Regions from separate parts of the Homo sapiens genome. Here region 2 is linked to region 1. Evidence: fine-mapped expression QTL. A gene starts in region 1. The other region holds a variant in brackets. All regions are shown on one strand. Distances are between the middles of the regions. Region 1 holds the start of ZCCHC14 (zinc finger CCHC-type containing 14). Region 2 overlaps ZCCHC14-DT (ZCCHC14 divergent transcript).

Region 1 (2,903 bases):
CTGTTCATCCTCGAAGACCTAAGACTGGAGAATGTGGGGTTTGTTTGTTTTGGAGCGACTGGGGCGGGGAGGGGGGGTCTCACCATGTTGCCCAGGTTGGTCTTAAACTCTTGGCCTCAAGCGATCCTCCTGCCTCGGTCTACCCAGTAGCTGGAACCACAGGCGTGCCAGATTCGGCTGAAGAGTTTTGTTAGGAAGTTTTCAGCACCTTGGACCATATCCTGAAAAAGTTCATTCATTGATTTAACCAATCTCTAGTGTGCACTGCCCAGAACCAGAGTGTAAGCTCCACAGGGTAGGGAGGGCGCCAGCTTTGCTCTCAGCTGCCCCCGGGCGCTTGGGACCTGGAACCCATGAATGAACAGACCCCGTTCTAGATCAACAGACATTCAAAGCAGCGCTCTAGGGGAAGGGCAGGGGAGGAATGAGCGTCCAGCCCCCGCGGCTCTACTTCTATGCCTGTGTGTAAGTGGTGGGATTTAAAGGTGGTTGGGTGCACCGGCCCTTCCCCCACCTGCAATCCGGTGCCAATGCAAGTGCCAGGGGAGGGTGGCGTTTCTGTTTACTTCCAGCCAGGTCAGCTCCCTTGCCCCCTCCCCTGTGTTTGCATTTTCTGCGTTTGGCGAGCTGGTGAAGTAGCCGCGGAAAGAAGGCGGATTTAAAGGCTCCATTTGGACGAGGCTTTTGGAGAAAGCTTGCACCTCCCATCACACCCCCAGGGCAAGTCAGCCGCCTCAAAAGTGCCGGTGCCGGCCCTCTGTGAGCTCAACACCTTCGCACAAACCTCGGGGGCGGTTATTATTACCCTCTTTTTCCCGGGGAGGCGCCTGGGGCTCAGAGAGGCCAAGTGACTCGCCCAAGGTCACACAGCTTTGCAGTGGCCGACCCGGGATTGGAACCCGGGGCTCCGGACCCCGCGGCGGCCGTTTCTCGAAGATACCCACTACCTCCCTCTTACACCGCTCAAAAATAAAGCAGGAAGGCCGAACGCCCCGTTTTCGCCGAAAAACAATGCTCCACGCAAATTTGCGGGAACAAAAGCAACCAGAAATCCAGCCCGGGTTTTCCGCCTCTCCGATTCCGCGGACCAATCGCGTCTTGACGGCCGCCGAGGGACGGGAGGCGGTGGCCCCAACATGATCGACAGCCCCCAGGGAGGCGTGGCCGCGGAACGGGCGAATGGGATTGGGGACCCGGCACAATCACGGGCCGAGAACGGGCCGCCTGAGCCAATCAGTGGGGGGGGGACGGGCCCGGCAGGCCCGGGCTGTCGCGAGAGGCGGCCACCCCGCCCACTTCTGCTGATCCCGGCCGCCCGTCAGCCGCGAGCGCGACGATCCCTCCGCTCCTCGGCCGGCGCCTCCTCCGCCGTCGCCGTCGCCGTCGCCGTCGCCGTCGCCGCCGCCGCCGCGCTCGGGCCCGGATCCGTCCGCCGCGCGGGAGCAGCAAGGCCGGCAAGTCCCGGCCGGATCCCTCCGCGCCTCCCGCCGCGCGTCCCTCCCCCTCCAGCGTCCGTTTCGCGGCCGCGGCCCCCAGCGCTCCCCAGGCGGCGACGCCGCGCCCGCGGCCCGGGGTAACGGCCGGCCTGGGCGGAGGCGCGGGCGGCGGCGACGGCATGGCCGGGGCGGCTCCGTCGGGGGGCGGCCCGCAGTGACAGACCCTGCGGCGCGGGGGGAGATGGGGGCGGCCGCCTCCCGGGCGACGACGACGACGACGACGAGGAGCAGCCGCCGCCGCCGCCGCGCACCGGCCGCCGCTGGGCACGGGCGCGGGGAAGGCGCCTCCCCGTGAGCGGGGGGCCCGAGGCCGCTCGCCGCCCCCGGCCGCCCCGGCCGCCCCGGGCCCCCCCGGCGCCCCGCGCGCGCCCGCCCGCCGGCCCCTGACGGGAGCCTTGCCCGGCCCCGGTCCCCGCCCCCGCCCCGGCGCCCGCCCGGCCCGCGGCGCCCGCGCGCCCTCGCCCGGACCCGGCCCCGGCCCGCGCGTCCCCGGTCCCGGCGCGCCCCGGCCGCGGCCCCCGGCGCCCCCCGGCCGCCCCCGCGCGGTCCCCGGCCCCGGGTCGCGGCGCGGCGCGGGCGGCAGCATGGTGGAGAAGCGCTGCCCGCTGCAGAGGGACGGCGTGTACCGCTGGTTCTCGGAGCTGCCGTCGCCGCAGCGCGTGGAGTTCCTGTGCGGCCTGCTGGACCTGTGCATCCCGCTCGAGCTTCGCTTCCTCGGCTCGTGCCTGGAGGACCTGGCCCGCAAGGACTACCACTCGCTGCGCGACTCGGAGATCAAGGCCAACAACCCGGCCGACCTGGGCAGCCTCACCAACCTGACGGACGAGGTGGTGCGCAGCAAGCTGCTGGTGTCGCTGGCGCTGCTGGGCTCGGAGCAGCGCGAGGCGGCGGGCGTGCTCTACCGCACGCTCACGCACATCGACTCCATCATCCACAACTACGGGCTGCAGCTTAACGAGGGCCGCACGGGCGATGAGTTCCTGCTGCTGTTCACCATGGCCTCCAACCACCCGGCCTTCAGCTTCCACCAGAAGCAGGTGCTGCGCCAGGAGCTCACGCAGATCCAGAGCAGCCTGAACGGCGGCGGGGGCCACGGCGGCAAGGGCGCGCCCGGGCCGGGCGGCGCGCTGCCCACTTGCCCAGCCTGCCACAAGGTGCGTGCCCGCCCCGAGCTCTGCCCTGTACCCCAAGTCTGCATCCCCAACTCTGCACTCCAAGCCTCCAGCCTGCACCGCGACCCCCCGACCCACGCCTCCAGCCTGCACTGAGAGCTCCCACCCAGGTCTCCAACCTGCACCACGAGCCCCCAGCCCGTATCCCAAGCCCCATCCTAAGCCTCTATGTCGCACCCCAAATGTGTGCCCCACCTCTCCAAGCCTCCACCGTACATCCCAAGCCTCCGCCGTA
Region 2 (2,903 bases), 21 kb before region 1:
CCTTTGGACTTCTAGAGCATCTTGTAGACAATGGCAATTATCAAGGCCTGGATATATACATTATATAATTGTTATGTAATCATTAATGTGGCACAGAACAACAAATACGGATCTTGCAGACAGAAAAAAAATTGTGGTCATCCTCTTTATGAACTTTCTTGATTGATTTCATAAAACATCTATAATCATTGTTTAATCTGAGCTTTTTTTTTTTATTTTTTGAGACGGAGTTTTGCTCTCGTTGTGCAGGTTGGAGTGCAATGGCATGATCTCAGCTCACTGCAACCTCTGCCTCCCGGGTTCAAGCGATTCTCCTGCCTCAGTCTCCCGAGTAGCTGGCATTACAGGCGCACACTGCCACACCTGGCTAATTTTTGTATTTTTAGTAGAGATGCGGTTTCACCATGTTGGCCAGGCTGGTCCTGAACTCCTGACCTCAAGTGATCTGCCTGCCTTGGCCTCCCAAAGTGCTGGGATTACAGGCATGAGTCACCACGCCCGGCCTGGTCTGGGTTTTTGGATAGCTCATAGACATGAATTCTTCAGGGCAGGAGTCTCCAAAGTGTTTAGATCATAGATCCTAATGGGCAAAACCTTTCCCGCAGGTGCCCACCATATACGTGTATCTTAAAACTTAAGAATTATATATATGCATTGCTGCTCTCATATTTTATGTATAATCATAAAACTCCTAACAAAATGGACTTTTTTTTTGAGATGGAGTCTTGCTGTGTTGCCCAGGCTGGAGTACAGTGGTGTGATCTTGGCTCACTGCAACCTGCACCTCCCAGATTCAAGATTCTCCTGCCTTAGCCCCCTGAGTAGCTGGGATTACAGGTGCACACCACCATACCTGGCCAATTTTTGTATTTTTAGTAGAGACGGGGTTTAACCATGTTGGCCAGGCTGGTCTTGAACTCCTGACCTCAGGTGATCCACCCGCCTCGGCATCCCAAAGTGCTGGGATTACAGGCGTGAGCCACCACGCCCAGCCAAAATGGAAATTTCTAAATGCCAAGTAAAAGATTAAACAAACAATATTCTTTTTAATGTCTTGCTAATTATGATGGTTTCCATTACATCTCAAGGCAAAATATGCATTTGGGGTGAGGATTATTGTCAACAATGATGGATTTTCTAATCTGTACTTCGACTAGACTTCTGGATAATTAGGGTTCGTGTGACTGTCCTCTGCGGGCTGACTGGCTGGCTGCCTTTGTTTTTACCTTGGGATATGTCTGACCAAGAGCACAGGCCAGGAATAAGACAGCTGCTCTGATGCGTTCTCACTCTTTACTCTGCTTGGCTTGTTAGTGTTTCCTTCATTCCACAGTTCCTTTGTATGAATCTTTTTAAGGCATACACCGAATTTAGTTAGAACCAGACAAGATAGGTACCAGCAGCTACAGATCCACTCTGGTAAGCCAATACTTCACCAACGTATGTTGCCATATTTTAA[G/A]ATGTAACAGACAGGTGTGGTGGCTCACGCCTGTAATCCCAGCACTTTAGGAGGCCAAGGTGGGCAGATTGCTGGAGCCCAGGAGTTCAAGACCAGCCTGGGCCACACAGTGAGGCCCCATCTCTACAAAAAATATAAAAATTAGCCAGGTGTGTTGGCGCATGCCTCTGGTCCCAGCTACTTGGGAGGCTGAGGCAGGAGGATTGTTTGAGCCCAGGATGCAGAGGTCGCAGTGAGCTGAGATCGCACCACCGCACTCCAGCCTGGATTGACAGACCAAGACCCTGTCTCACTTAAAAAAAAAAAAAGAGCTAACAAACTGTCAGATGGGACTTCACCGTGAAACTCCCATTCATCCTGCAAGGTTCCCTTGGGTGACAGCTGAGAAGCCACCACCGCAGTGCCACCAAGCCTGAGGGGTGTCCCTGCCTGTGACCTCAGGTCCCCCTTCTGCCTCTTTAGTCCTCCATTCCTCATTCCACCAATGCCCAATATTAAATTCTCTCTGCTAAACTAACCAGTGCGTTTTCTGTTTTTCTGACTAGACTGTCATGGGTACAGAGAGCCAGTGTCAGCTCAGAGTCAATATTCATAAAACCTGATTTCTTGCTTAATCTTAAGCAATAATCTCATCTCTTCTTCCTGGTCCTCAGTGGATCACCTCACACCCCAGGGGCATGATCACTGCTCTAGAACATAGAACACGTGGGATATTTAATGCTAACTTAATTACCCCCATCATTGGCTTGCTGTGTACCCACTGTGGCAGAGTGAATCACGGCCCCCAAAAAGATGCCCACGTCCTAATCCCCAGATCCTGTGGATGTGACCTCATGTGGTAAAAGGGACTTTGCAGATGTGATTAAGTTATGTATCTTGGCCGGGTGTGGTGGCTCATGCCTTTAATGCCAATGCTTTGGGAGGCTAAGGTGGGAGGATTACTTAAGGCCAGGAATTCAAGATCAACCTGGGCAACACAGTGAGACCTTGTCTCCACAAAAAAAAATAATAATAATAAGGGCAGGGCGCAGTGGCCCATGCCTGTAATCCCAGCACTTTGGGAGGCTGAGGTGGACAGATCACCTGAGGTCAGGAGTTCGAGACCAGCCTGGCCAACATGGGGGAAACCTCGTTTCTGCCAAAAATATAAAAATTAGCCAGGTGTGGTGGCCCGCACCTGCAATACCATCTACTGGGGAGGGTGAGGCAGGAGAATTGCTTGAACACAGGAGGCAGAGGTTGCAGTGAGCTGAGACCATGCCACTGCATTCCAGTCTGGGTGATAAAGCAAGACTCTGTCTCAAAAAAAAAAAAAAAAAATGCCGGGCGCGGTGGCTCACGCCTTTAATCTCAGCATTTTGGGAGGCTGAGGCAGGCGGATCATGAGGTCAGGAGATCGAGACCATCCTGGCTAACATGGTGAAACCCCGTCTCTACTAAAAAT

What was found. PIP is the estimated chance that this variant, and not a neighbour inherited with it, causes the effect. A credible set is the group of variants that fine-mapping cannot tell apart.
Region 2: its variant is the best candidate, but not a certain one, in a credible set for the expression of ZCCHC14 in whole blood (GTEx, PIP 0.56).

Annotation. Positions count from the first base shown.
Region 1 is chr16:87,491,416-87,494,318 of GRCh38, reverse strand. ZCCHC14 (zinc finger CCHC-type containing 14) reads left to right here and starts at 1,295. Exons shown (of 13, transcript NM_015144.3): 1 at 1,295-2,650. The coding sequence starts at 2,081. ZCCHC14-DT (ZCCHC14 divergent transcript) reads right to left here and starts at 132. Exons shown (of 4, transcript NR_110943.1): 1 at 84-132. RefSeq lists a silencer at 1,177-1,356.
Region 2 is chr16:87,512,372-87,515,274 of GRCh38, reverse strand. The region is part of intron 3 of ZCCHC14-DT (ZCCHC14 divergent transcript); the gene reads right to left. Among named protein-coding and RNA genes, the nearest start is that of ZCCHC14-DT, 20 kb to the right of the region's middle. The variant G/A (reference allele first, on the strand shown) is at 1,460.